3 separate regions of the Homo sapiens genome follow, and regions 1 and 3 are each linked to region 2. The links come from fine-mapping of genetic effects on gene expression. A gene starts in region 2. Each other region holds a variant in brackets. All regions are shown on one strand. Distances are from middle to middle.

Region 1 (10,371 bases), 60 kb after region 2:
ATCTTTGTAGCTACTGAAATGAAATTTATAAAGCATATATTTAATTAGCCAGAAAAATAATATCATGTTTATTGTTTTTTGCAAATGTTGTGGAAGGCAGAATCATAGTCACTTAGTACCAAAACAGGCCCCTAACAATTGTTTTTGTCAAGCTCACATTCATCTTAAACTAAAGTGTACAAGTTAGATGATATGGTTTTAAGCTGGTGGATGTGGGAATTTTATGGGTTTAAGAGGCGGGTTTCTCTGTCCCTTTCTCTCTTTCTTCATACCTTAGCTAATGGCATACAACCTCTGATTTCTCCAGGTATGGCGTGAGTCCCGAGAACATTATCCTCTATGGTCAGAGCATTGGGACTGTCCCCACGGTAGACTTGGCCTCGAGGTATGAATGCGCAGCGGTAATTCTCCATTCCCCTCTGATGTCTGGTTTGCGTGTGGCTTTTCCGGATACCAGGAAAACATACTGCTTTGATGCTTTCCCCAGGTAAGTTCATGCTTGTCCAACAAGTGGTAAGTCAGCCAATGACTGTGTTTATATCTGATGCTCCCATAAATATCTGTGTAAATATTTATTGAATGCAGCCATACGTCAGACCCTGTGCTGGGTGCCACAGGGCATGTGGGAGCAAATATGACACACACTGTCCAGAGATTTTATCCTCCCAGGCCTGACTCACTTGTGAAAATCTCCCAGATGATGTATAAGGACCTTGAGTATACTGACGCCTAGGGTTAATTGATTGAGCTCTAATATACAGGATTTTTAACAGCACCCATACATCCTAAAGGAACTTACAGTTCAGCACTCGCTCATTCATTCAGAGACACTTCTTGTTAAATCTTGAGCTGTATACAATATGTGTGATGGGGCAACTAGTGGTGTAGACACTCAAAAACTTCAAGCAAGCACAGTTTGGAAATTTCTCTTACTTTTTCAGTTGGACAGTACAGGTAAGGGAAAAGGTACCATGCTCAGTTAATCTTTGTAAATAGAAGAATAAAGGCAAAGTGAGTTACTCGACAAGCCAGGCTTTGATCTTCGGTAAATAGCCACAGGAATGGTATAAATGAACAAACTCACCTGCCACCCCCTATTCTGCTCTACCACTTTGACCGGAAGATCTCACCCCTGCAGAGGTGCCTGCATGAGGAAAGTATTTTTAATACAAAATATTTTGCCCCTTATGCTTTTCCCACAGTCCTTGCTGGAGGGGCCTAGGATTGTTACCCCAGGACTGGCCCAGCTCATGTTGCCATTTTATAAAAAAACCTCAGCAGAAAGAAGACACGGTTTTAGGGTTTTTGATTGACCCATTAATTGCTTTCATCCTGCTATTGCTGGAAAAAAAATAAAAGATCATCGTTTGGTTACATAAACATCTATTATACAGACTGTCTTATTTCACAGAAAGGAACCTTCTGTTAACACCTTGGGTGAACTTCAGTTTTGTGCAGTTTGTACCAGGATTCAATGAGATTCGGCTTCATGGGAAAGTTGCACTGCAGATTTATAGTGGCGTGGCTGGGAATGCTAAGTAGGGCTAATGTGCCTCTCAAATGTGGCCTTATTTGTGCTGAATTGGTAATGAGAGGCCAGTTTGCTGAAAGACGGATACTTAGCATGTTTGTGGGAAGCAATGCGGGGAGTTACCCTGGCAACAAAACTAATAGTTTTTTTTTTTTCCTGGCTCTTAAATTAGCATATACCTTAAAATACAGCCATCTCAACAAATTGCAAATGATTAACAACAAATTAGCAACTAATCTTATCTGAGTTTATCTGGTATGGCAGGTATCGGGCTATGCATTTCATGTTCATGGTCCCCCTTCATCTTTACAAGAGTCTTATGAAGTTTGTCAGCTGGGCGTGATTGCTCACGCCTGTAATCCCAGTACTTTGGGAGGCCAAGGAGGGTGGATTGCCAGAATTCAGGAGTTCAAAACCAGCCTGGGTAACATGGTGAAACCCCGTCTCTACTAAAAATACAAAAAAAAAAAATAATTAGACGAGCGTGGTGGTGCACACCTGTAATCCCAGCTACTGGGGAGGCTGAGGCATAAGAATTGCTTGAACCCAGGAGGCGGAGGTTGCAGTGAGCCGAGATCGCACCACTTCACTCCAGCCTAGGTGACAGAGCAAGATTCTGTCTCCAAAGGAAAAAAAAAAGATGTTTGTTCAATTACTGTGCTCATTTTACAGATGAGGAAATGAGAGGTTAAGTAATTTATTGAATTAAGGTCGGTAATTAGAGGACAGGCACAGTGGCTTACACCTGTAATGCCAGCACTTTTTGAGGCCAAGGCTGGAGTATCACTTGAGGCCAGGAGTACAAGACCAACCTGGGCAACACCACAGCAAGATCCTGTCACTACAGAAAAAGATTAACAAGTTAGCCAGCCATAGTGGTACACATCTGTAGTCCCAGCTCCTCAGGAGGCTGGGGTGGGAAGATTCCTTAAGCCCAGCTTTATCTCTTTGAGGTGGCAGTGAGCTAGGATTACACTATTGCACTCCAGCTTGGGCAACAGAGCAAGACCCTGTCTCTTAAAAAAATTTTTTAAAAGGCTGGTGATTGGAGACAACAAAGGAGACAAATCCTCATATTTAATGCCATAAATTATTAATATGATAGATTTCAAACCATTAATGGTTGCATTGACTTTCATCATGAATTTGAATTTGGTAAACATTTTCTTAATATGTCCGTTGTTGCCAGATGGCAGAATCATCTGTGTCCCTCTCCTTAAAGGAGGATACTTGCACATTTCCTTTTAATATTAAAACAAATTTAAACAAAAGGAAAAGGAATCCAGATTATTATTTCATTTATAGTTTATTTTCTTTTACCTCCTTTACACTTGGGATCGGATGATGGAAGTCAACTTTAAATACACCCTCCAGGCAGTAGAGATTCTCCTAAACTGTGCAGCGTGGAGCATAGTCCCAGGCCCATTGTAACTGTTGAGTAAATATCTTTTTAATTGTGTATAATTGAACTCTCTTAAAGGAAGTCACTTTAAAATTAAATATAGGGGGAAAGCAGGTTTCCAAATAAGATTTCTAAAGTGCATAATTGAATACTGCCACAGTGGCTCTGATGTTTGCAAATTACATGGCTGATGAGGTTTTGCAATCTTTCTGGGATGTCTTGAAGTGGTCCGCGGCTTCCTGAGTTTTTAATAAAGGCTAGATGACAGTTGTTTGTAGATCTTTGGAATGTGTAATTGATGTTAGAGCTCTTTATTATCTCCACGACCTCATTCCTGTTATTTAATAATCTCTCTGAGCTTCAGTTTCCTCCTTGATAAAACAGAGGTGGTCATTCCTCTCTCACTGTGTTTCATTAAATATTAAAAGAGATTTTGTGGGTTAAGTGCAAAGCACCCGGCTATGGTAAATGTTTAAAAAATGTTAGCTGTTACTTTTAACAAAAAGATTCCCACAAATAGTACTAATTGGTATCCTTTTGTAACTTCGACTAGGATCAAATATGGAAAGAGAAGTAAACTACAAGAGGCTCTTTGGCAGGACAGAATGGAGAGAGAGCCATTTCTCTTGATTTATTTGTGGATGAAATGACTGTTATCCCGATCAGAGAAGTCGCCTACACACCCAGCTCAACCAATGCTTAAAGTCTTTTGGATTCCTCTTTTGGATATGCTTTCAGAGCCTGAAGCATATTGTTTTAAAGATCCTCAAATATTCATCCTTTGAGAGTAGATTTGATTTTTGCAGAGAAGTCATTTGGAATAAAATCTAGGCATTACATTAAGTTTTCAAGCTAAATAGTACAGTTTTTATTTTTTAAAACAAGGCACTTGCTTTTATGAAATGGGGTGTGTATCTTTGAGTCAATTCTGATGGTAGCTTTCAGAATTCTGAAGACTTGAGTGGCAGCAAATTAAGTGTCCAGCTTTCCAAATAGACATTCATTTGATATGTTAAGTTCTGGCCCTTTTTAAAATTCTCTTGAAAAATAATATATAAATATAAAAAAATCTAAAAGTAATATAAAGATAATATATAAAAAATAGTAGTTGCTAGTTTGCTAGTCTGATGCTCTGAAGAGGTCTGTCTTTAATAAAATACTTCAACAAACACAACAGCCAATTGCAGTGTGGTATTCTTGTTTGGATCCTGGAACAGGAAAAGGACATTAGTGGAAAAACTAGTGAAATCCAAATAAAGTCTGGAGTTTAGTTCATAGTAATGCACCAACGTTGGTGTTTTAGTTTTGACAGATGTATCACGGTAATGTACAATGTTAACCTTACAGGAAATGGGTCAGGAGTATGTCAGGGCACTGTATTATCTTTTTGTTTTGTTTTCTTTTCTTTTCTTTTTTTTCTTGAGACAGAGTCTCACTCTGTTGCCCAGGCTGGAGTGCAGTGGCACGATCTCAGCTCACTGCAACCTCCCACTCCTAGTTCAAGCAATTCTCCTGCCTCGGTCTTCCGAGTAGCTGAGATTACAGGCATGCACCACCATGCCTGGCTGATTTTTGTATACACTGTATTATCTTTACACCTTTCCTGCAAATTCAAAATTATTCTAAAATGCAAAGTTGATTTAAG[A/G]AAAAAAACTAAATTACCAGAAAAAAATAAAGCAAGAAAAAGCCAAACTGTTATGATATGTTAATGTAGGTTCATCAAAGGTACTGCTGTGGTAGGGGATATTGATAATTGGGGAGACTGTGCATGTGTGGGGACAAGGAGGTATCTGGGAAATCTCTGTACCTTCCTCTCAGTTATGCTGTGAACCTAAAACTGCTTTAAAAGATAAAGTCCTTAATTTAAAAACAAAACAAAACAAACAAAAAAAACCCACGGTGTTATTTCCCTGCCTGTGGAGATTATTAACTTATCATTAAATGTGATGTGTATTATCTGTGAGCATAACTAATGGAGTCCTCTTTCTGCCTCCCCCCTTTCTGTTTTGCAGCATTGACAAGATATCTAAAGTCACCTCTCCTGTGTTGGTCATTCATGGTACAGAGGATGAGGTCATCGATTTCTCCCATGGCCTAGCGATGTACGAGCGCTGTCCCCGAGCCGTGGAGCCCCTTTGGGTTGAAGGGGCTGGGCATAATGACATAGAGCTTTATGCACAATACCTAGAAAGACTAAAACAGTTCATATCTCACGAACTTCCTAATTCCTGAAGACAACAACTTGATCTTACCTCATTTACTGTGAACAGAAGAGTCCTCTGTTTTGCACATGCTTTAACTGGGTAGCTGTAAAGGCTTGATAACCATGAAGAAGTGCCCAACCTTTAGGGTGTTCTAATCAAAGAGCTGATGAAATCTCAGTCTTTTGTATCTAGAGGTGGTTCTGCTAATTCACACAACACGTTAAACTGAACAGTCGTGATTCCCAGCTTCATTACCTTGCAGGAATGGGAATGAGAGCTGAATGTAGGGACAATTTTCTAGTGCTGTATAAAGTAGCCTCGCATCTGTTTCTCAACCTTATCCATCATTTCTGACATTCATGCAGGACTTGCCCTGTTGCCACCAATGTTCTCGGTATTTCACATGCAGCTCTCTTTCTGCCACTGGATACATGGGTTCAATCCATTTGTGAAGCTGTGATAGTGTAACTGGAAAGCTAGTGTGGTGAAAATTCCTTTATTATTTTTTGTTAACATGCTGATCTTTCCCGGACAAATGAACTGAAGGGTAATTTACTGGAACTCTCGTGTACAGCTTCATCAACTGTAACCATATAAATATAACTGGAATATTCTTAAACAAAAAGAAACTAGGGGTTTTTTTAAGTGTAAATTTATTACTAGCCAACAGAGTTTTACTATTTTGATTGTCTGGTTGGTTTAACAAAGAGCCTAGCTGACTTTCCTTCTGTAAAGTCCTCCTTGTAGGCTTTTTTAAAGTACTGTACATATTTGCAATCACATTGTGCATAGATTCTTAATGGTAGATATGATTTCTTTTGTCAGGCTACAACAATGAACTGCAGATTCCTTGTTTGTAATGTAAATGATTGAATACATTTTGTTAATATGTTTTTATTCCTATGTTTTGCTATTAAAAATTTTATAACATTTCCAAGACAAAAATTCCAAGTTTATGCTTTGAAGAATTTATGTAATTAAAATTTCACTAAACTAATCTTTTTAGTTTAGGAATTATTTGGGTTTTGACACTGGAAGTTGCGCCAAATAAGCATCAGAAATAGGAGATGCTTAACATTGCTATACTACTTGTGTTGGTTAGGGGTTTGGATTTGGGGGTTCTTTGGTTTTAATTTTTTTTTCCACATTTAAAAGCCTTAAATGTACTGTAAGCCTCAGATCGTTGTACAACTGGACTGCGGTTGATTGCCAGTTTGTGTACTGTTGCTTGGATGCGGCACAGTGGTTGGTAATGGAATAAAGGATGCATGGATCAGAATGTGTGGGCTTGTGCAGTTTTTTTCTTCATCTCTCCATCAAAGAAAATAGTGAATAAGAAAACAACTTTTTGTCGTAATGTAGGAAGAAAACCTTGAGGCTTTCAAACTGCACCATCTTTCTCAAGGTATATGGTTTTGTTCTATAAAAGGCCTTGGATTACTTTTGGAAGAAGCCAAGATATAAAGCATATAGCAGTAAAGTGCAGATGATATCTAAATAGAGGATGCAGTGGATTCTGGCTATGAAACAAAATTGATGAAGGTGACCTCATTGTGACCTGGCTCAGAGGAAGGACAGTGCCTCTTTTGTTGGGAAGCCTGAAACAGGTGTGTTCCATAGTTTTCAGCCCTTTGACCAGCTGAGCAGAAAAGAGCAGCTGAGGGATGCTAGTTTTCAACTCTTGGAACGCACTCTCCTAAGGGTGCATTAGGAGGAAGTGGTGGTCAGGAAGGTGTGAAGACATGAGTATGCACATGTGAATGCATGCATATGCCAGCTACTTCCTGATCTTGAATCAGGTGGGTGGGGCTGGCTTACCCGAGGGGGCATCAGCAAAGCTCCAGTGGTGATGCCTGTCCCAAAAGTCTGGGAGACCTAGGTAGGAAAAAGCACAAGCAATGACCTGCCTTTGGGGCCAGAGACCAGCGGGTCAGGGTTGCCAGAGACCTGATTTCTGATTCTATTTGTGTGCTGCTTGCATCTTCTGTAATCCTTACCCCCCTTTTTTCTCCTAAACTATTTAGTAAATTTCTTTTCATCAGCCAAATATCGGGAAATGATAAGATTGACAATAACAGAAACTAAGGTGGCAAAGCCTTTTGCTTCATTGGTTTTGTCACTTGATGTGGATGGTTTGTATCCACTGGAAGCAGCTCGTGCTTTGCCAAAACTGAGGAGGGAAGTTTCTCCAACTTTTGCCAGGGTTTGGCATGGGAACGGCATTCCTCTGAGAATTGCATGTGTGGTAACAGTGGGAACCCCAGGGAGAAATCCTCTATTGGTTTCTGAGAGACACCCCTCCTGAGCTGCAGGCTTTTTCTAGAGCTGTTCTCCATTCAGACCTGGGGCCGGATTCCAGGTGTTTGGTTTCCACTAAGTGAGGATGCGTCTCCTTTCTGAGTGCCTTACTATTTCTTTCTCCCTAGTCAAGAAGGAAAAATTAAGTGGCTACCTGAAGTCCTTGCAAAGTATAGAGAAGGTATATGTATTGTTTCTAATATATGAATTCGTGCCTTACGCTTGTGGAAATCCGTTTATAACTATTAAAAGCCTAGAAGTAACATTCAGAGCAAGATATTGTGACCGTATTATTATTCATTCTGTTGATGATTATTATGCTTTATGATCCCTAAAATTAAGCAGAGTAATACAGATTTGGATCACTCATTATAATCGCATGAGAATCTCAAATCCTAATTTAAATGATTGTAGCATCCTTTGAAAACAAGAATGGAATGATTGCTACTGTCTCAAAATAGAATGAGTCTATAGTTTAAAAAACAAAAAAAAAACCTGTTAGCACTCTTGTTCAAGACTGAATTTTGAATGTGAAAATCAAAGGTTTGAAAGGGCAAATGAATTGTCAAAATACTCTTTTTGGGAACATTTCTGTGACTCTTGGTGTGTGGAGGAGAAATATAGAATCTATAGACTTCGGGGCCTTGATCACTTCAGGAAATGATCACAAGTGTATTAGCCTGCACAGAACAAGAAGGATCCCTTCTTAATGTGAGGGATCACCTTGGGTTCCAGTTGAAAACTGAATGCCCCCTCTCTCAGTGCTCCCCTTTCTATAGGTACCTGCTACTGCCCTATCTTAGAACTAGGACTTGAAAGTGCAAACACATGAAGAGGGTCTGTCTGTTCTAGTCTTTTTCAGGTGAGCCTTTTCAGAGGGAGGATTAGGACCATATCTAATCTGTCTTTGTATCCAAGCTGAGTGATTTTGACCTCGTTCCCTAATTTCTCTGGGCCTCTGATGCTTTTTTTACCCCTTGTTGACCACACGTAGGGCACATAGTCATTAAATGAAATCATGGCTATGCAAATACTGTCCATTTTTTGCTTTATTTTCGACACAGAGTCTCACTCTGTTGCCCAGGCTGGAATGCAGTGATGTGATTATGGCTCACTGCAGCCTCAACCTCCCAATCCTCCCATCTCAGCCTCCCAAATTAGCCACCGTGCCTGGCTAATTTTTATGTTTTCTTGTAGAGGCAGGGTTTCGCCATGTTGCCCAGGCTGGTCTCAAACTCCTGGCCTCAAGCGATCCTCCTACCTCGGCCTCAAAGTGCTGGGATTACAGGTGTGAGCCTCCACGCCCGGCATTTTGTGCTTTGTAAAGCACTGTAAATTGTATTACTGGCAGCAGAGCTACTTAAGATGAAGCTCTCAAAAGAGAATAAAATGATAACATTTGAAGAACTAGGGGAAAGCAAGCACCAGATTATCTTCCAAAAAGTATACTAGGCCCAGGCAGTTATAAGAATAAATTCCTTCAAACTATTAAGAAATAATTCCATAGTATATTAACAGTTCTAAAGGTGCGTGCATGCGCACATCCATTCATACTCAAGAGACTAAAGTGGAGCTCACATACAGAGGCAAAAGTGCTAAACAAAATACTGCAAAATCAATCCTCTATCAAAAGAACAAACAGCATGATCAAATTCGAGTTATACAAACACAGCATTAGGAGATAATGTTACTTTCTGTTTGCTAGTAGTAACTAGTTAGGAAATATCATGGCCAAAAGACCTCACTTACAATAGTACCTCACTTAGAATAGTAACACAGAAAACATACTCAGTGCAATAATGAACCTAGAAGATCTCGTGACTTCTGTTTTCTGCTTTGTGATGGTCCTGGGATGTGAACCACCCCTTCCACTGAAAACAGTTACTGAATGAAATGGTAAAAATCTAAACAGATGCATGAACTGTCAAGAAAATAAGACCTGTGTGCAGGCCAAATGCAAAATAAAGATAAGAACTGACAGGAAGGAGAAGCACTGAAACTAGTTTTCTCTTTGAAGGAATTTGCTGGACTCGTTTAATCTGAACACTGGTTTTCCAGTCTGGTGAATCTCAGAGCAGTGAACAAAACCTAGAGCGCCCTCCAAGGCAGGAGATCTACTTGGAAACTATCTTCTTTTAGGGCAAATTCGTAGGATCATTTCAATAGACACAGAGAAAACATTTTCTGGAACTCAATGTCCCATTTAAGTTAAAAAAACCAAAACACTTATTAAACAAGGAATAGGGGGAAACTTTTATATAGAGAGATTATCCCAAAACATAATAAGCATTATACCAAGAGGCAAAACATCAGAAGCCTTATGCTACTTTAGATTGGAAATTAAAGATAATATCCACTACCCTCACTCTCTTCAAAGTTACACGAAAAATTCTAGCAAGTTCAGTAGGGTCAAAAAGGTAAAAAGATATAAGACATGGAAAAGAAGAGGCAGTGAATATGCTCTAAATCCAAACTATTGTGATGGTTGCACAACTCACTAAACTTGTCAAAAATCATTCAAATGTACATATAAAATGGATAGATTTTATATGTAAAGTATACCTTAATAAAAATTATAAAAATAAATGAAAAAAACTATTCAGGTTATGATTGTCTATGTAGAAAACCTGAAAGTATCTATAAATTATTAGATTTAATAAGAGTTTAGGTTGCTAGACACAAAATCAATATACAAAAATCTACCTTATTTCCATAAATCAGGAAAAATATTTAATAAGCCATAGAAAAGAAAAATGCCACTTACAATAGTATTAAAAAACATTAAATACCTGAGACTAACACACCATGCACAAGACACATTCAGGAGAAAAAGTTATTTTTGAAAGACATTAAAGAAGACCTAAATTAGAGATATACCATGTTTATGGATAAGAGGTCTCACTACTTAAATATATCAGTGCTTCCAAAATAGATCT
Region 2 (10,371 bases):
TACACAGGGAAAAACAGGTGGACACCGATCCTATGAAGTACTGTACCAACTCGAAATTCTGTCATCAAGTTCAGGGACTCTGGACCCCCTGTTAAGAATCTATGAATAGGAGATTGGATGAGATGAGTCAGAAATGCAGGTTTGAGGGCATTATCATCCATGGAATGACCGTGGTTATAGGAACTGTGAAAACACATTTCTGTGGGTGGGTGGTGTTTTATTTCTTTCAATCTTTATCTCTGCAGTGCTTTCTCAGCGGTTTGTGGATCTCAGAGCTCTCCCCGGCTGGGTTCCAGTCATCTCATTTACAACCCTTTGGATAAGGGCCTTCAGACTGAAAAAGATTCTGGGAAAAGATATTTTGCCTCCAAAAGTGTTTAGTTGAATGGCAGGCCTCTTATCCTAATTAATGTCAGCATAGAACTTCTGGAATAGCCTCAAAGTATCATTTATTTTAAAAATTATAACCTTTTCATGTTTTCACATTTCAGATTTGTTACTTTACTGGTTATCTCCTTAAAACGTTTTCCCATCTTTAGTCAGTCATACTTAAATATTTTTCTACAGAGGGGCAAGCAGGATTTAGGCACACTGTTCCACTACCGATCAACAAAGTACTCATTGTCCTTATTCAGAAAGCAGTTAAGAACAATGTAAGATCTTTGCTTCTGATTCCTGAATCAGTTAATGCTGCATTAGGTTACAGGTAACAAATAAACCAACTACAATGACATAAAAAGACTTAGTTTTTTCACATAAGAAGCCTCGACAAATACAGGCGAGATCGGGGCAGCTATTAAACCATGAAGGAAATAGACTATCTTTCTGCACCACCATCTTCAGCTGTGAAATTTACCCTCATGCTTGCAAGATGGCTGCTGTTGCTCAAAAAACAATGCCTGCAACCCAGGCAGGAACAACAACAAAAAAAAAGTGAAGGGAAACATTACAGCTGAGCCTGGCTCTGTTAAAAGTCTCTCCAGAAGATCCCCCAGTATTCTCCAGTTAGGGCCTATTGGACAGAATCCTGTCATGTGGCCATCCTGATGGCAGGGGAGGTTGAGTGACTATCTTAACTGGGTACATTGTTACCATAACAAAATTTGAGCTCTATTGGTAATAAATATGGAGAGAATGTCACAATTCCTTAGCCAGAGGACACAGTGTGATGCTGGCCTTGGCTCTGGACCACTTTGTATCTTCTTCAAAGCCCATAACTCCAATAATACTGCCCAAACCAGAAGGAACAGGCTTGGTATTTTGGAAGCATTCACTAAATCACTCATTCATTCTTTTATTTTATTATTATTTTTGAGACAGGGTCTTGATCTATCACCAAGGCTGAAGTACAGTGGCATGATGACACCTCTTTACAGCCTCGACCTCCTGGGCTCAAGTGATCCTCCCATCTCAGCCTCTGGAGTAGCTAAGACTACAGGAGTGCACCACCACACCTGGCTAATTTCTTTTTGTATTTTTTATAGAGATGGGGTTTTGCCACGTTGCCCAGGCTGGTCTCAAACTCCTGAACTCGAGCAATCTGCTTGCCTCAGCCTCCCGAAGTGCTGGGATTACAGGTGGGAACCCCTGCACCTGGCCTCTCATTCTTTAATTTAGCAATTTAATTAACATTTACTGAGCATCTTCTCTATGCCAGTCATAGGGGAAACGATGAACAAAATACACATGATCCCTGATTTCACTGAGTATCCAGTCCCAAATTTTTAAAAAAATGTACAATGGGGCAACATTACCTTAGATTCCATCAAGACAACCAGATTCTGTTTTTAAGCATGAGTATCCTCTTATGGTCAAAAGTTGGTTCTACTTTTACAAATAAAAGTGGTCTTGAGCAACTCCACATCCAGCTGACTAGTGTGGAAGCCAAAATTCAGTGTGTAAAGGGCCAATATTAAGTAATAGAGATCAGGGTATTTAGTTATGTGGAATATTGTTTAGTTCATCAATACTGGCTGGCTTGGCAGGATACAGAGTTACCTAAGAGACAGATCATACAATGCACTTGTTGAGGGCAGGAGGAGCTGTGCATTAGCCACCTTTACATTCCCAAGTCAACTCAGTGACTGACTCATGATAAGTACCTAGCAGAGTAAATATGTTTGCTGACCTGAACTCAAAGTTAGATCTTTCTCTACTAGGATGATCAGAATGACATAGAAATTTAAGGCAGAGGTCCCCAAACCCCGGGCCGTGGACCTGTACTGGTCAGTGGCCTGTTAGGAACTGGGCCACATAGCAGGACGTGGGTAGCTGGTGGGTGAGCATTACTGCCTGAGTTCCGCCTCCTGTCAAATCAGCGGCAGCATTCGCTTCTCATAGGAGTGCAAACCCTATTGTGAACAGTGCATACGAGGGATCTAGATTGCGCACTCCTTATGAGAATCTAACTAGGATTTTCATGGAAAAAAATTGCCTTCCATGAAACCAGTCCCTGGTGCCACAATGGTTGGAGACTGCTGCTTTAAGGTCAAAGTGGACAGCTGGTAATCCCCAATTTTCACATTTTATAGGGCAAATGCATTCTTTATGTGCTGTATGTTAAAGTTTCCAAACCAACATGACAAGGCACACTAACACATTTGTTGTTAAAGATGTTAGATGTTAGAGACGTGCTGAGATCTTTAACCTCTTATCCCCTGGGCAGCACGTCTCATGTCAGTGGGCTACAGAAACTCTACCACTGGCTATATGTGGCATGAGATAAGAAAGGCTTGGTAGCTTCACTCTACGGCATATAATTTTAGGGTCTCAACTGAATATTTACACAAACCTGAACCAACATGTTTTCCTGGGGAATAAATGCTCTTTCAGCCCACCTCTGTGTAGCCTTGTAATAGAATGAAAACAAAAGCCAGGCTTTTATTTATTTGCTTATGTATTTATATTATACTGAATCACACTCCACAAATCCCTTGTGGAATGAGACCAGGTATAAATAAACAAGTATCTAGCTTTTAGATTTTTCTAACAATGCTAACACTGCTGCCAGGCCATCTGAAATATAAAGACTGTCTTTTCCATCAGCAGCACAGAAGACGAGTACTTGAGACTCTCATCATTCCCCCCTTTCATGAACTAAGGGCTATTCAATTCTTATAAAGGACAGGTGAGAGGAGTGGTATCTGAGAAAGACTGACTAGGGGGCTGTTAGATACCCTTTCATCTCAGTTCCCAAAGTTTGATTCTTGTTCTGAATTAGATTAGGGACTAATGCACTCGACTATAACCTTAGCTCCCCATAGAAATATCACCACTGAATCAGGACGCAAGACCATCTTCTTAGCTTTTATGAGGACTTGATTTTTTTTAAAGGCACATAAAAACTGTTTTGAATCTTCTGCTGATGCCCTAATTAGACTGTAAGGTATCTGAGAGCAGGGACTATCTTACTCACCTTGGTAGCTGTAGCACCTAACACAGTGGATGCTGTGAGCACAAAAAACATTACATACATAAATGCTGAATACAATAAAGTGACCAAAGTATACCAATGTGTAGCAAGTTAGAAAGCCTTTTTATTTTTTTGAGACATAGTCTCACTCTGTCACCCAGGCTGGAGTGCAGTGGCATGATCTCGGCTCACCGTAACCTCTGCCTCCTAGCTTCAAGTGATTCTCGTGCCTCAGCCTCCTGAGTAGCCGGGATTGTAGGTGCACGCCACCATGGCCGGCTAATTTTTGTATTTTCAGTAGAGACGGAGTTTCATTATGTTGGCCAGGCTGGTCTTGAACTTCTGACTTGAAGTGATCCACCCTCCTCAGCCTCCCAAAGTGGTGGGATTACAGGCGTGAGTCACTGTGCCCAGCTGTATAAAGCTTTTTTTTCTTTTTAAAGGATTTTCGCAGAAAAATTCTTTTTTTAAAAAAAAAAAAAAAAAAAAGGAAATGCAAACCTGCAAAGCTAGAATTGGGCTTTATGTGAAGAGTTTCACCAAGTGTGAAAACCTTCAAAACAGACTTCAAATATGCAATCTGGACAGGCTTTGTTACCAGGTTTTTAAAAATCAAGTTTGAATAGTTCAAAAACAAGTAAAATTGTTTTAGTGAAGAAATGGCCTTTTAAAACCCAGGTCCTAGCTGGGCAAGGTGGCATGTGCCGGTAGTCCTAGCTACTTGGGAGGCAGGCCGGAGGGTCATTTGAGCCCAGGAGTTGGGAGTCCAGCCTGGACAATACAGTAAGACCCTGTCTCTTAAAAAAGAAAAAATTAAAAGCGAGGTCCTGAAGGTTAATGAAATCAGTATCGGCAATTCATTTAGATGACGGTGCTCAAAATATTCGTCCTGTGGAAAGTCACAACGAAAGGTAAAATTCTCAGGACATCTGTGAGTTAAAACAACAGACCCAGCGTAGGGATTGTGCCAACCTCCCAGTCTCTAGCTGCCCTGCTGGCAGTCCAGGAAGGGTATCTCCTGTCAGTTCCTGAAAGGGAATTCTTCAGCTGCCAAATCAGGCGGGAAAAAGGAAGTATAGAAGGCTCTGTGGAAACTGGCACCAGAGCACAGTTTCAAGGCACCGAGAGTTATATTTGAAAAATCATGTAAAGGTGGCTGCCAAGATTACAGTAGATTTAAAGCAGTATAAGAATCGTTCATGACTAAGACCACTGAAAAATCCTGGACCCAAAACAACTCTAGAGACACAAACACTGTAAACGATACCTAGTATATACTTACTACCGGAAAATCTGCCACACGTGGGATTAGAAATGACAACCTCAACATGGTTTGTTGCTAAATACAGTACCCTCCTGTTCTAACAGCTGACTTTTATAGATACAGAAATGTACTAAGGGTAAAACCATGCCCTTAGAAAGGAAACGCTGTTGCTACCTATACAGAAACAGCCTCTCCTAATAAGAAACACACTGATGACCACCCTATCCCACAACCCCGGTACCCCTTACGGTGCTGAGAACTTTTGGTACTGAGCCAGTTCAGAAAGCAGCACACACGAGAGCCAAATATTTCGGGCACATTCCAACTCTTGTCCACCCCTTAGTTTCCTTTTCAGTAGACTCCCAAGAACCTCCATCCACGGGAGAAACCTGGATTTGGGGGAGGGAATCCCAGGGGGAGGGGAGGGGAGCGGTCCACCCCGGGACACATGCACCCCCTCCAGGGTCCCCTCTGCAGATCGGCCCAGCTGTCCGGGCGCAGAGCCCCCAGCCCCGGCACCCAGCTTCTCCGGGCCCCGGAGCCGCCTGGAAGCCCCCGTCGGCCGCAGGTCGAGAAGGTGCTTCCCAGGCCGGGGAAGGTGCCCGCGCCCTTGCCCGCAGCGCCCCGCCCCGATGCCCGGCTCTGCGCCGCGTCCCAGCGGCGGCGCCGCCGCGCGGTAACCCGGAAGTGGCGGCGGCGGCGGCGGCGGCGGCGGGCGTGCGGGAGCGGGAACGGGAGCGGGGGGCGGCGCGCACGAGCCGGCCATGGACGCCGCCGCCGGCTTTGTGTGCCGCGCGCGGGCCCGGGCCGCCCGCGCCTCGCCTGGGTTCCGGGGCCGCCGCTGACCCGCCCGGGCTCCGAGCGCCGCGCCCGCCGGGCCGGCCCCGCCTCCTGCCCTCCTCCGCCTCCGCCTCCTCCTGCCGCCGGGCGGGCGGGCTGCAGCCGCCCTCCGCGCTCGCCTGCCAGCTCCCTCGCCGCGCGTCCGTCCTCCGTCCTCCCGGGCCAGCCAGCCAGCCAGCCAGCCGGGCCGGCGGCGGGCACCAGGCCGTCCCGATGCCCGAGCCAGGCCCCAGGATGAACGGCTTCTCGCTGGGTGAGCTGTGCTGGCTCTTCTGCTGCCCGCCCTGCCCGAGCCGCATCGCCGCCAAGCTGGCCTTCCTGCCGCCCGAGCCCACCTACACGGTGCTGGCGCCGGAGCAGCGCGGCGCCGGCGCGTCCGCCCCGGCCCCGGCCCAGGCTACCGCCGCCGCCGCCGCGGCCCAGCCGGCACCGCAGCAGCCCGAGGAGGGCGCGGGCGCGGGGCCCGGTGCGTGCAGCCTGCACCTCAGCGAGCGCGCCGACTGGCAGTACTCGCAGCGCGAGCTGGACGCCGTCGAGGTCTTCTTCTCGCGCACGGCCCGGGACAACCGGCTCGGCTGCATGTTCGTGCGCTGCGCGCCCTCCAGCCGCTACACGCTGCTCTTCTCGCACGGCAACGCCGTGGACCTGGGCCAGATGTGCAGCTTCTACATTGGCCTCGGCTCCCGCATCAACTGCAACATCTTCTCCTACGACTACTCGGGATACGGCGTCAGCTCGGGCAAGCCCTCCGAGAAGAACCTCTACGCCGACATCGACGCCGCGTGGCAGGCGCTGCGCACCCGGTGAGCCTGCCGGGGTCGCCAGGCCTGACTTCCAGCTGTGGGGAGGCGGGGTGGGGGTCTCTTGGGGCCCCTGGGGCGGCCTGCCAGGAGAGGGGCCCCTCCTCCGGGGCTGAGGGCCAGCGGAGAGCCCCTTGGCCGCCGTAAATTCGCTTTTCTTGTCCCACCCTGGCTTGCTCCCACCCTCTCCAAAAACCGCGCCAGCCTTCAGGTTCCTGGAGAGCTCGGACTCAGAGAATTTTGCCTGCTTTGGCTCGCCTGTGTGTCGCCGGCCCACCGGCTGGGTCTTTTGTGGCTCCGGTCACCGCGAGTGGCAGAGTGTGGGTGCTTAAGTACCGGGCAGAAAGAAACAACTTGGTTCGAGTTTCGTTTGTACGAGCTGAAGTGACCTTGGGCAAGGCACATGGGTTTCTAGACTCAGTTTCCTTCCCTGTAAAGTCAGTGGGCGAGACAGGATGGCCTCTAAAAGACTTTCTGGTTGTAAAGTGCGGGCAGGACAATGTCTGGGCAACCTTGGAAACAGCTGGAGCGTCAGGTGGAGCGGGGAGTTTGCCTCCTGGTGGGGCAAAGTAGTGGCACTGTGGGGCAGGAAGTTAGCTGGTAGCTGTGGGCCTGGCACCTTCCACACGGCCTCCATAACAGTCCAGGATAAGTTTGAAACTTGCAGGGGCTGGGAAATCTCTGACCTTAAATTAGCATTCACAGAAGGACTGAAAAGTGTTTAGGGTGGGCCATCTGTGAGCCAGGCACAAACTGGGGGCATGGTTTAGGGGTTAGACCTGGTTGTTTTATAACAAGCAAACCAAAAACCTGACTTTTATTCACTATTAGACAAAAGTCTTATACATGTGCAGGTCAGGTTACCTGTTTGTGCTCCAGTTTGGGTATCTGTGACCTTTCCGACCTGCCTCATAGCAGTGATGGTGAAAATAACCTGAGGCCATGTCTATGATGAGATTTGATTTCTTCAGATGAAAGAGTCCCCAGAGGAAGTACACCGGGCATTATTGTCGCCATGGACCCTTCTATAGTTTTTATCTAAAACCTGTTTGCTTATGCACATCACCAACGTTAATGATTTTTTTTTTTCATTCGTACTCACGCATATGTTCCTAAGTGACTCCTTGCCTGTCTGGGAAAATGGCTTGTCCAACAGGGAAGTACTTAATATTTGCTCTATGTTGCATGTTTATGCCCTCCTGAAGTCCTGAAGGGGATGCCCTCATTGGGATTATAGCTTTTCGAAAGTGGCTTAGGCAGATGAGAATGTATCATATGCAGATGCATTGGGTCAGAGTCTGTAAGTAGTTAAAAGCCACCTGTTCCAGTAAAGGGTTTCAAAAGTATGTGTCACACACAGTCTATAGCTTGCTAGAATTTGCTGTTGGCAAAGGTATTAAAAATAAGGTTGGCATTAGATCTTTAAAATTTGAAACATGAAAATCCTACCTTGAGTAGATTTTTTAATTGAAGAGTTTCCATAGAACATTGCTTCTGTGTGTGCATGTCCACATTACAATGAAAGCCTTTCACATGGCTCACCCTTTGCCCCAAATATACAGGTGTGTCTGTGTTACAGCTTACGTGGAGTGTAGTTATTTCCTGGAAACTTTTTTTTTTTTGGTCATATTTAGTTGAATTAAGGGGCGTTGTTTTGGATAATGTTGAATTATCTGATAGTGTATCAGTTGAATTAAGGGTAATTGTTTCGGATAACTTTGAATTATCTGATGGTATGTCTAAAGATTGCCCATGATTTATTTAATGTTATACCAGAACTCATATCTAAGTTAATTTATTCACCTGTAAAAAAGGTTAGAATTTGAAGGCTGCATGCGAAGCTTAGAATTTGAAGGAACCTTATAGATCCTCATGTCTTGTGCTTTTCAAACTGTTTTGACTGTAACCTCACAGTAAGAAACACATTTTACGTTTTGATCAAGCACACATACACGTCTGTATCCACATACCTGAAGCCAATGCTTCACAAAACAGTAATTTTTCTATGGGCAGCACACATAGCAGAATATGTTGTTTTATTTCACTTTTTTTTTTTTTTTTTTTTTGAGACGGAGTCTTGCTCTGTCGCCCAGGCTGGAGTGCAGTGGCGCCATCTTGGCTCACTGTAAGCTCCACCTCCCGGGTTCACGCCATTCTCCTACCTCAGCCTCCCGAGTAGCTGGGACTACAGGCGCCCGCCACCGCGTCCGGCTAATTTTTTGTATTTTTAGTAGAGACGGGGTTTCACCGTGTTAGCCAGGATGGTCTCGACCTCCTGACCTCATAATCCGCCCACCTGGGACTCCCAAAGTGCTGGGATTACAGGCGTGAGCCACCGCGCCTGGCCTATTTCACTTTTATAAAAAAGAAAAAAAAAGATGGTTGTGAATTGCTAAATTTATTTCCCAACTCATGTATGGACACTGCACACGTTCACCCAGCTCATCTGACAGGAGGATAGACTGGCGGCAAATCAGCAGTAGGTCTCTTGACTACCAGTTTAGTACTCTTGCGAGGGCACCATTGCCACGGTAAGCATATTTATCAGATTCTTCAGGAGGTGCATTTGTGTGTCTTGGTTATTCTGCTGACATAAGAGTTACCTAATTCTGAAGCCAATCAGCCCCTCAACCACTTTCCTCTTGCTGTTCAGTATGGTTCTTCTGCTCTTACTTGCCTGGAGCAAGTTCTTATGCTATTCTCTCTTCTTTTACAGCTTAATTCATGTCAGTGCCATGGCAGGAATGCCTTCCATCCCATGTGTCCATTCTTCTGTTACTGGGTCAGACTCTGTTTTCCACCAGCCATCCCCCATGTCTTCTTTGGGAATCTTTATCTTTCCTGCCCTCCTAGTTAACCACACTCCCCAGGACACTGATTGGAGAGCTTGCCTTGTTCTGAGTCATCTTCATCTCTGTACTTAGATTATTCCCCCAGGAGGACTGTAAGGTGCAGTGCCCTGCAGGCCCCAAAGCCCCACACTCAGGACTTTGCCCCACTCTTCTGCTCACATCGTCTTTTGTATCTGCCCTTCTCCTGTGCTAGGAACAATGGATCCTGACTGGATCTTAATTGGATTAGGAGACCCTTTGTGTTCCCTGTGCACCTGGTACTCAGCCCCTTTGCTTGAGTTATCACAGTGTTGCTGTATCTGTTATTTAACTGTATCTCCACTAAATTGGAAGATCTCTGAGGGCAGGGACACTATGTCTTCTCTATTCCTGACAGTTGGCAAAATGTCTTAAAATAATAGGTAGTCATTGGTATTTGTTGAACGAATTGCACATAATGGGCGCCCCATAAATAAGTGGGGTAAAGTTAATTTTTCCTAAGTTGGACTCTTACAAGTACTTGGATCTTATTTTATCTTCGGGGTTTAATATCCATGGGTACAACCATAGACAAAAAAAAAAGGGCCAGATGTATTGGCTTGAGGCCTCATCCACTTTGTATTCATTGTATTGGTGTTCTTGTGACACTGAAATGTCTGTATTGAAGAGAAGAACAATACTAACCCATCCTTTGTATGTCTCTACATCTTTTATCCATTACCTATTTGTGCCAGCTCCTGCGCATGCTAGAGTGAGCTGTCCAGCCCTTGAAACAGATGTAAATACTACCAGTGTGCAGACCCCTCATGCATGGATAAAGACAGTGAATCCCCCCAGATGATGAGTATTAAGGTGGGCACGTAATCCAGAGTAAGGGTTTCAGGAGGAAGTAGATTTGGTAAGAAAGGTGGTTGTTGCCGTTTGGCCAATAGATGATTATTTTAAACTCTTGAAAAGTTACTGAAAAGAGTGTAGCGGAGAGGCAGGGTTTGAAGGAGCCAGGAAGAGTGGCATGAACAATGAGGAGAGCTCATTGAGCATGATGGAGAGCCCCAAGATCAAAACTTGTTTTACGTTTGCATTACTGGTAAGAAATATAAGTATGTTGTGAATACAAACAAGTGAGGGAATGAATTGAAATCACTTAGACATATCTGTGGAAAAGACACTGAAAATCAGGGTCACCTTATTGGAGTGTATTGTTGTCACTTGAGTTGGGGAAGT
Region 3 (10,371 bases), 48 kb before region 2:
AGCAATTGTGCAGTTAGTTCTTGATGAATTCCATTCCACGCTCCCAAATAAGCCTTCCTTTCTTCTTCATCTGTAATAGTCATAAGAGTCATTATAAGAAATACATGAAATAGGCCAGGCGCGGTGGCTCACGCCTGTAATCCTAGCACTTTGGGAGGCCGAGGCAGGCGGATCATGAGGTCAGGAAATCGAGACCAACATGGCTAACACAGTGAAACCCCGTCTCTACTAAAAATACAAAAAAATTAGCAGGGCATGATGGCGGGCGCCTGTAGTCCCAGCTGCTCGGGAGGCTGAGGCAGGAGAATGGCGTGAACCCGGGAGGCGGAGCTTGCAGTCAGCCGAAATCTCTCCACTGCACTCCAGCACTCCAGCCTGGGCAACAGAGCGAGACTCCGTCTCAAAAAAAAAAAAAAAAAAAAAAAAAGAAGGAAATGAAATAACATAGTTCAGGCACTTAGAACAGTGCTTGGAACATAGTACTTAATAAATTTAGAGGAAGAGGGTATAGCATATTGATTAAGATTTTGTCACGTAGAATCACACTGCCTGCATTCAGATCCTGCCTGCTTGGTTTCCTCCTCTGCAAAACTGAGATAATAATTACCTGTGTCATACTTCTTATGAAGATTAAATGAGCTAATTTAAGCAAAATACGTGGAATAGGGTCAGGCAAATTGTAAGCCCCCGGATGTTAGCTTCTCTTTATGGTAGTAGAAATGGCAGTCATATGTACCAGTAACTGCCATTATTGATCATCTACTACATCAGGCACTGCTAAGGTGACCAGCTGTCCCAGTTTGTCTGGATTAGTATGGGTTTAGCACTGATGGCCTCATATCCCAGGAATCTTTCCATTCCAGGCAAATTGGGATAGCTGGGCATCCAGGTACTGTGAGAATTTTATTTTATTTTATTTTTAATTTTTATTTTTTGAGATGTAGTTTCACTCTTGTTGCCAGTCTGGAGTTCAATGGTGCGATCTCAGCTCACTGCAACCTCTGCCTCCTGGGTTCCAGTAATTCTCCTGCTTCAGCCTCCCGAGTAGCTGGGACTACAGGCATGTGCCACCATGGCTGGTTAATTTTTATATTTTTAGTAGTGATGGGATTTCACCATGTTGGCCAGGCTGGTCTTGAAGCCCTGGCCTCAAGTGATCTGCCCACTTCAGCCTCCCAAACTGCTGAGATTCCAGGCATAAGCCACCGCTCCTGGCCAGGTACTGTAAGAATTTTAAATGATCTCATCTTGTCACCCAACATCCCTTCACTTTTACACATACAGAAACAGGGACTCCAAGCAGTTAAGAAGTTTGCCCAGGTGACACAGGTGGTGAGGACCAGAGCCGGCTGGCCCCAGAAGCAGAAGTTGCCTCACTTCATGAGCAGCATCTTCACTGGGAAGGGGCTGGATACTGCCCGGAGGCTGACTCATGGTCACCAGAGATCATCTTTTTCTTTTTAATTGTGGTGAAATATGCATAACGTTAAATTGACCACTTTATTTTGAAGTGTCTATTTCAGTGGCATGAAGTACATTCGCAATGTTGTGCAACCATCACCACCATTTCCTGACATTATCCTTTTACAATTTTTTAATTTGGTCATGTGCTGACTCTTTCTACATTTATACCACCCTCACCGTGTGCGCAGGAAACAGAGGGTTTTCACTCCCAGGAAAGCCCTGTGAGCCACCAGTCATCCTGATGTAAGCCGAACATCATCTGCTTGCAGTTACACAAGTGCCAGTAATACTGAGTCTGTGGCTATGGCCACATATGCCTCACCTCTCCCATCTCCTCTTCCTCCTCTAAGTGTGTCCACTGAGGTACCACAAAGGACTCAGCAAGCTGAGATCAGGAATGAAGGGATCAGCATTGTTTCATGGAAAGTATTTGAAAGAGTGATGAGTCTGCACTGCATCTGGGCAGATGCTTTTGTTCAGGGAGGTGATGCCTCCGGCCTCTCTGTCCAGGAGACCATAAGACCCAGCACTGGGAAATCCTCCATCACGCTGTGACTAAAACCAAACCTGAAGCATGTGAGTTTAGCCCAGTTAAGATGCTCCTGAGAACACGGCCCATCAGTCCCTGCACATTAAGGCTGCTCAGGGACCGGCAGGCAGCCTCCGGGTTCCCGTGAGGGTGCAAGGCTCCGAGAGAGCTGCACCAGCAGTGGGGTTGGGCCAGGAGTGAGGGCTGTCTTCCTTCCCCCGAGTTTCTACCACCCACCCTTTCTTTGAACTCTCTTCAGATCTTTATCCCATTCATCTTTTGCCTTCTATAGACCATGGACTCCTGGAGGGCAGGAACACCATCTCACTGCCGCCTGTGCTTGAGCGTGCAGGCGCTCAATCACCTGCATTGCCTCAGAGAAGAGCAGGTGTCTTAGGGGTTTGGTCCTGTGCTAACTATGGCAAAGGACTAAGAATATGAAAATAATAATACTAAGCACTTTCTCTCTTTTCTTTTCTTTTTTTAAGACAGGGTCTCATAAAAGACAGGTCTTTTGGGCTGGAGTGCAGTACACAACCATGGCTCACTGCAGGCTTCAACTCCTGGGCTCGAGCAATCCTCCCGCCTCAGCCTCCCAAGTGCATCACCAAGCCTGGCTAATTTTTTATTTTTTTATAGAGAGGGTGGTCTCACTACATTGCCAAGGCTGGTCTTGAACTCCTGAGCACAAGCGATCCTTCTGCCTCAGCCTCCCAAAGTGCTGGGATTACAGGCGTGAGGAACCACTTCCTGCCTAAATACTTTCTGTGTGCCAAACTCTGTGCCAATGCTTTCCATCAAGTGTCCTCACCACGACCCTATGAGGAGGTTCATGCCCTTTTTTAACCATAGAAAAACTGGAGTGAGTTCAGAGGAGTGTGACAAGGGACATGAGTGGCCTTTGGGGTGAGCTTACTGGGTGATAAGAGAGGCCTCCCGAGGGCAGGATGCCCACTCAGGCAGGCTCTGAAAGGGAAAGGCTACAAGAACTGCAGGGGCCTGCGGAGGAGAATGTGCAATAAACAGAGGCCTATAGAAAATAATTATTCTTGCAAGGGCTGTGGGGGATGAGGCGCAGAACTCAAGGCGCTCAAATTCGATTCAGAACAGAGGCTGGGAGACCAGGCATGGTGGCTCATGCCTATAATCCCAGCACTTTGAGAGGCCAAGGTGGGTGGTTCATTTGAGGCCAGGAGTTCGAGACCAGCCTGACCAACATGGTGAAACCCCATCTCTACGAAAAATACTAAAATTAGCTGGGCCTGGTGGTGCGTGCCTGTAATCCCAGCTACTCGGGAGGCTGAGGCAGGAGAATCGCTTGAACCTTGGAGGCGGAGGTTGCAGTGAGCCCACATTGCACCACTGTACTCTAGCCTGGGTGACAGAGTGGAAAAAAAAACCCAAAGAACACAAGTTGGCAAGGTGGCAGCCTCTGGAGAAGGCATTGGTTGGGAGGTGAGCTGCACCCCCAAGATGTTGTTCTGCTCTATAATTCTGGGCTGGGCTGAGGATGTGGTCAGAAAGCACCATCACCCAGAGGGAGCTCAGAGGATGAGCAAAGAAAGAACAGCTTCCCGAAGAACATTTCCTCTGTTTACTCACTATAGCTTAAGCAGAAGGTGTCTGCTGTGGTGGCTTTGCCTGGAGTAATTTGTAATTGACACAGTTTTCACGACCTTCTCTGGGTTTCCTCTCATTTATTTTTTTTTTCGGTTAACAGAATAGTGATGAGTAATTTTATCTGACTTCACTGTGACATCAACTGGCACATCTCCTAAAGTAGCCTTTTGTCTACTGACTGCCCTTCAGGGGGATATATTTATATTTATGTCTCATTTATTCTCCTCCTCTGTGGATTGTGGTTTTCTGGGAGAGAAGTAAACTCCACTTTAGGGGAACATGGAAAATCCAATTGTTTAATAGATGATAAATCGCATTTCCTTTCTCTTTTTTCAAAAGATGAGCTGTTAAGAATCACATGTTAGGAACGGTTGTCATGCTAGAAATACATGGCTCCCAATGTTTACACCTTATGAGTTTCTGGGGTATTGGCTGCCATTTTTACCCATTTTTTATTTTATTTATGTTAATACTCTGTGCCATTTGGTCCACTACACCTGAACATGAATTTATGTCCATCTGCATTCATTGATCACTCGGCTCTTTACAAACAGGGCCCTGTTCATGCAGTCGCTTTCCATCCTCATGCATTCTGCTTCAGAGGTACTGGATCACTTACCACTGTCCAGGTGCTCTGGGCTGTCTCCCCTACTATGTCTTTGCCATGCCATCACCATTGCAAAAAAGAAGAAGAAGAAAAAAGCCTTCCCACTTATTATCTGCCTTGATCATGCCTATAAATCTATTTGGTACCAGTTCAGCCCTGCACCTTTCTCCTGGAGACCTTCACAAGCCTCTCGTCTAGTTATAGCACCCTCCATTCCCCTCTGTCACATGCTATCATGATGGTGCTTGTGTGGGATCTCCTTGAAGGCAAAGACCTGACTTTGTATCTTATTCATTCTTATATCCAGGGCCATTGCATTGCATAGTGTGTGGCATGACATAATTTCTCAATAAATCCATATTAAGTAAAAACAAAACAAATATCTCTGTAGGAAAGGATTCAATTCACTATGCCACGTTCTCCATGAAGACTTCTTTGATCCTTCCAACCTGGAAGACATTTCTACCTGTGGGCTCCTGCTCACTCCACCTGTGCCTCCCTTTGAACCTGATACCTTTCTGATTTTCCATTCTACCAGCAAACCGCCAGGAACGCAGGAGGCGCTAAGTGGTCACCAAATGAAAGTTAGTTGAAAACGGAACTGAATTTGCTCACAGTCACACCGAGATAATCATTCTGGAATACTCTTGCATCCATGCAGTTTTTCCCTCACATTGTGAAAACAACATTCCTAGGAATCCAGAGAAGAACTTCAATCCTGAAACAGAATATTCTGTGTGAGTAGTATCTCCATCTTTCCCTGACTGTAGAGGTACATGGAATTTATTGTTGTCGTTGTTGTCTTGAGGTTCTCAGAATTTTAAAGGTCTACAGTTGGGCTTTAAGGAACTTGAAAGGTCACCTAGCCCTTTAAAGCCACTTTATCGGCCAGCCTCGGCCTCCCGAGGTGCCGGGATTGCACACAGAATCTCGCTCACTCAGTGCTCAATGTTGCCCAGGCTGGAGTGCAGTGGCGTGATCTCGGCTCGCTACAACCTCCACCTCCCAGCCGCCTGCCTTGGCCTCCCAAAGTGCCGAGATTGCAGCCTCTACCCGGCCGCCACCCCGTCTAAGAAGTGAGGAGCATCTCTGCCCGGCCGCCCATCATCTGGGATGTGAGGAGCCCCTCCTCCCGGCCGCCCAGTCTGGGAAGTGAGGAGCACCTCTTCCAGGCCGTCATCCCGTCTAGGAAGTGAGGAGCGTCTCTGCCCGGCCGCCCATCGTCTGGGATGTGGGGAGCGCCTCTGCCCCGCCGCCACCCCGTCTGGGAGGTGAGGAGTGTCTCTGACCGGCCGCCCCGTCTGGGAAGTGAGGAGCCCCTCCGCCCGGCAGCTGCCCTGTCTGGGAGGGGAGGAACATCTCCGCCCGGCAGCCACCCCATCCAGGAGGTGGGGGGCAGCCCCCGCCCGGCCAGCCGCCCCATCCTGGAGGTGGGTGGCAGACTCCGCCCGGCCAGGCGCCC[A/C]GTCCGGGAGGTGAGGGGCGCCTCTGCCGGGCCGCCCCGTCTGGGAAGTGAGGAGCCCCTCTGCCCGGCCGCCACCCCGTCTGGGAGGTGTACCCAACAGCTCATTAAGAGCGGGCCATGATGACGATGGCGGTTTTGTCGAATAGAAAGGGGGGAAGTGTGGGGAAAAGAAAGAGAGATCGGATTGTTACTGTGTCTGTGTGGAAAGAAGTAGGCATAGGAGACTCCATTTTGTTCTGTACTAAGAAAAATTCTTCTGCCTTGGGATGCTGTTAATCTATAACCTTACCCCCAACCCCGTGCTCTCTGAAACATGTGCTGTGTCCACTCAGGGTTAAATGGATTAAGGGCGGTGCAAGATGTGCTTTGTTAAACAGATGCTTGAAGGCAGCATGCTCGTTAAGGGTCATCACCACTCCCTAATCTCAAGTACCCAGGGACACAAACACTGCGGAAGGCGGCAGGGCCCTCTGCCTAGGAAAGCCAGAGACCTTTGTTCACATGTTTATCTGCTTACCTTCCCTCCACTATTGTCCTATGACCCTGCCAAATCCCCCTCTACGAGAAACACCCAAGAATGATCAATAAATACTAAAAAAAAAAAAAACAAAAAACAAAAAACAACAACAACAACAAAAAACTCCACTTAACAAAACACAATCTGATTAGTTTCTGAATAAAGTAAATAAAACCTGTAAAAAAAAAAAAGCCACTTTATCTTCAGGGTTTAGAAACCGTTGTCTAGAAAGACAGATCATTCATCAAGGTAAGTCAATGGCCAATAGAGTGGGTCCCATCTATACTACCTCTCTCTGTATAGATATAGTGAGGGCTGATCAAGCTATGATACAGAGTAGGGCTTGATTGCTGAGCATGATATGCAGGAAACAAGTAACTTAATAAACCCGCCTGACTGAGTCTAGAAGGGGAGCATTATTCTCCCTCTTATTGATGAGCTGCAAAGCTCACAACCCTCAGAGAGTCTAAACCAGCCCAGGATACTGGGTCAGTACTCTGAAGAGAGGAACCAGAAGCCCCGAAAAATACTTGGCCTGACTGTGGCCTTGGTCTCTTCCTGATATTCTCCCTCATCATGTCTAGGTCTGACTTAGGGAAGAATCCTCAAGTGCTGAGGGAATAGTGAGAATTTAGAAAGGCCATTCAGAACATATGTACTGAGTTCAGCAAGCCACTATCATAGTCACCAGGTCAGGGGTCCATGAGAGTAGTGAACTTACACTACTTGCCCACAATACTTGGCACAAAGCCTGGCACCTAGCAAAGACTGCCCAATCCACATTTGTTGGGTTGAAATCGAGTCAAGTATGCACACTTCACCAATGTGTTTGTCAAAACTGGAGCGATGCAGAGAAGATGGCAAGGTCCCAGTGCTAGGATACATGCAAATCCATAAAGGGATATAAACACACACAGGAATGCTGGGCACAGTGGCTCACGCCTGTAATCCCAGCACTTTGGGAAGCCAAGGCAGACGGATCACTTGAGGTCAGGAGTTGGGGACCAGCCTGGCCAATATGGTGAAACCCCCCGATCTCTACTAAAAATACAAAAATTAGCTGGGCATGTTTGTGCACACCTGTAATTCTAGCTACTCAGGAGGCTGAGGCAGGAGAATCACTTGAACCCAGGAGGTGGAGGCTGCAGTGAGCCGAGATCATGCCACCACACTCCAGCCTAGGCAAGAGAATGAGACTCCATCTCAAAAAAAAAAAAAAAAAAAAAAAAAAAAACACACACACACACACACAGGAAAATAGTATCAAAACCCCAAAAGGAAGAATATTGACCAATCTCAGAGGAGTGACTGCCACAGGGACCAGCACTGGGTGGGGTTCAAAGGAAACTTGATATGTGTCTATTATGTACTATGTTTTATTTCTTCTCTTTTCTTCTTTTCTTTCTTTTTTTTTTTTTTTTTTTTTTTTTGAGACAGGATATCGCTCTGTCACCCAGGCTGGAGGGCAGTGGCGCCATCATGGCTCACTGCAGCTTTGACCTCCCGGGCTCAAGCAATTCTCCCACCTCAGCCTCCTGTCTAGCTGCTGGAATTACTGGCAGGCACAACCACACCCCACAAATTTTTTTTTATTTTTTTGTAGAGATGAGGTCTCACTATGTTGCCTAGGCTGGTCTCAAAGTCCTAGGCTCAAGTGATCCTCCCACCTCTGCCTCCCAGTGTTTTATTTCTTAACCAAAAAAAGAAAATAAAGGAGGAACTGAAACAAATATGATAAAATGTATTTATTAATTGTAGGCAATGGATACATTGGTGTTATATTAACTTCTGTAATTTTCTGAAGGTTTGAGTTTTTAAAAATAATATTGCAGCAGTATGCTACAAAAATCATTATTTTTGTTTCTGTTTTGGCTCCAGCGTGGAGGATTCCCAAGACTACTCTCAAGTTCAATGATTTGGTAGAAACTTGTAGAACTCAGAAAAGCTGTGATACTTACAGGCTCAGTTTATTAGAGTGAAAGAATACAGATGAAAATGGCAAAGGAGGCCAGGCTCAGTGGCTCATGCCTGTAATCCCAGCACTTTGGGAGGCCAAGACGGGCAGATCATGAGGTCAGGAGTTCAAGACCAGCCTGGCCAACATGGTGAAACCCCATCTCTACTAAAATACAAAAGAATTAGCCAGGCATGCTGGCGGGCACCTGTGATCCCAGCTACTCAGGAGGCTGAGGCAGGAGAATCGCTTGCACCTGGGAGGCAGAGGTTGTAGTGAGCTGAGATCGTGCCATTGCACTCCAGCCTGGGTGACAGGGTGAGACTCTGTCTCAAAAAAAAAAAAAAAAAAAAAAAAAGAGAGAAAGAAAAAAAAGAGAGAGAGAAAGAAAGGAAAGAAGGAAAAGGCAAAGGAAAACGGTGCCTTAGGCAGAGTCCAGGACAGACCGGGTATGAGCTTCCCACTGTCCTCTCCTAGAGGAGTTGTACAGAGAGTACTTAATTCTCCCAGGGACAACGTGTGGTGGTGGTACACACAAAGTACGGCCAACCACAGAAGCTCATCAGAGTTTTGGTGTCCAGGGTTTTGTTATTCAGTCTCTGGCCTCCCCTGAGGTCAAACACAGTGCGGTCTAAGACCTGCATCATAAATCACATTACTAACATTAGGTCATCTGATGTCGTCCAAGACTTCAGGTATACAAAAGCTGGTCCTTTCTTTGGAACATGCAGGGGTTGAACATCATAAGCCTGTGAGTTAACCCTTTGTTACACAGTCCCCAAACAAGCCAAAGTGAGATGCAAGACCTCTGCCTGGATTTGCAAAAGATTTTGTGACCCTCAGCCAACCACCTACCTCAAGCCTACGGAACATTTGGAGAGATGGCATTGGTTGGAGAGCCTCCAGTTTTCTTAAGCTCCTCACCTCAAGCCTAAGAATATGGGCTCCAATCAGACCACTGGAAATCACAGCATGTGTCTCCTGAACTTTCAGAAACAAACAGACTGGTGACTGATTTGCACCTGAGATATCTAGTTCAGGAAAGAGTGTCTTGTTGCTCTGGGAACAGACTTTGGGATTTGACTGCCCTCCCAGATTTTGATGAGACAAAGAATAGGTGCGTATTTCTAGTGGAGGGAGGAAGAACAAACCAGTTCAGGACCTTCTTGGAAGCTGTGGGGCTGGACCACAAGATTCTCAGGGGCTAAGGAAGGCGCTGTAAGCAGCCAGCCAGAGGAAAAGGTATCAGCCCCAAAACAGGAAGTGGAGGAGTTTTCGAAGAACCTTTTAAAGTCCCATGGGAGAGAAAGAGTTAACTTTCAACACTGCCAAGTCCAGGAAACACAAGCCAACTCACTATAGTAGTCAACTTTAAAAGTTCCTGGCCCTGCACCATGGTGCACACCTGTAGTCCCAGCTACTCGGGAGGCTGAAGTGGGAGGATGTCTTGACGTCAGGAGATTGAGACTGTAGTGAGCTACAATTGTACCACTGCACTCCAGCCTGGGCACAGAGCAAGACCCTGCCTAAAAAAGAAAGAAAGAAATTTCTGTCCACTTTCTCCTCCACATTCTGCCCTGTTCTAACTTTGGAGAGTCAGAAACTGGTTAGTAGGGTGCATGAGAAGAACTAGGTGAAGAAAAAGAAAGAATTTTCTTTTGACTACAGGCCTACATAGGTCAAAGCTAGGGAAGTAAAAACATTCAACTTTGAATGAAGTGCAAAATTCTAATTATTAATGAGACTGGAGATTTTAATTAATAGACTGGTACTATTTGGGAAACAGAGTGACAAGAGAAACTTTTTCACTATATTCCCCTCTCTGTACTTCAGTTCTAGTAATTTTCTTGACTTGTCTCCAAGTATACTAATCTTATTTCCTGCTATGTCCCATCTGCTGATAAGTCATTCTAATAAATTTCTAATTTCAGATATTGCTTTCTATTTCTAAAGTGTCTACTTGGTTTTTGAAGAATATATTTTAGTTTTCTATTGAAATGTTTATTCTTTTTACCTATTTCATTCTTTTTTTCCTCCATTTTCTAAAAAATATTAATCAAAAGAAGTTCTTGTGTGCTAACTCCAATACCAGGGTCATCTCTGAGTCTGCTTCTATTGACTGTTTCATTCCTTGGTAATTGGTCTCTTTTTTCCTGCCTCTTTGAGTATCTAATAATTTTATTGTATGCCAAATGTTGTGGATGGTACATTGCAGAGG

Alleles and levels. Alleles are on the strand shown, and positions count from the first base shown. SD is a standard deviation of normalised expression in the study named. Not every link is listed here.
In carriers of allele A in region 3, the expression in monocytes after Pam3CSK4 of the gene that starts at base 5,610 in region 2 tends to be lower than with C alone (moderate effect, 0.51 SD a copy in Quach 2016).

The links. PIP is the estimated chance that this variant, and not a neighbour inherited with it, causes the effect.
Region 1: its variant is the best candidate, but not a certain one, in a credible set for the expression of ABHD17C in whole blood (TOPMed, PIP 0.53).
Region 3: its variant is the best candidate, but not a certain one, in a credible set for the expression of ABHD17C in monocytes after Pam3CSK4 (Quach 2016, PIP 0.65).

What each region holds. Positions count from the first base shown.
Region 1 is chr15:80,749,206-80,759,576 of GRCh38, forward strand. ABHD17C (abhydrolase domain containing 17C, depalmitoylase) reads left to right here. Exons shown (of 3, transcript NM_021214.2): 2 at 308-487; 3 at 4,946-6,416. The coding sequence ends at 5,165. Among named protein-coding and RNA genes, the nearest start is that of CEMIP, 25 kb to the right of the region's middle. RefSeq lists an enhancer at 1-1,050. The variant A/G (reference allele first, on the strand shown) is at 4,579.
Region 2 is chr15:80,689,701-80,700,071 of GRCh38, forward strand. It overlaps ABHD17C (abhydrolase domain containing 17C, depalmitoylase), which reads left to right and starts at 5,610. Exons shown (of 3, transcript NM_021214.2): 1 at 5,610-6,319. The coding sequence starts at 5,730. RefSeq lists silencers at 4,328-4,622, 5,084-5,243, 5,264-5,373, 5,394-5,813, 5,904-5,953 and 1 more and an enhancer at 6,144-6,213.
Region 3 is chr15:80,642,092-80,652,462 of GRCh38, forward strand. No RefSeq gene overlaps it. Among named protein-coding and RNA genes, the nearest start is that of ABHD17C, 48 kb to the right of the region's middle. The variant A/C (reference allele first, on the strand shown) is at 5,683.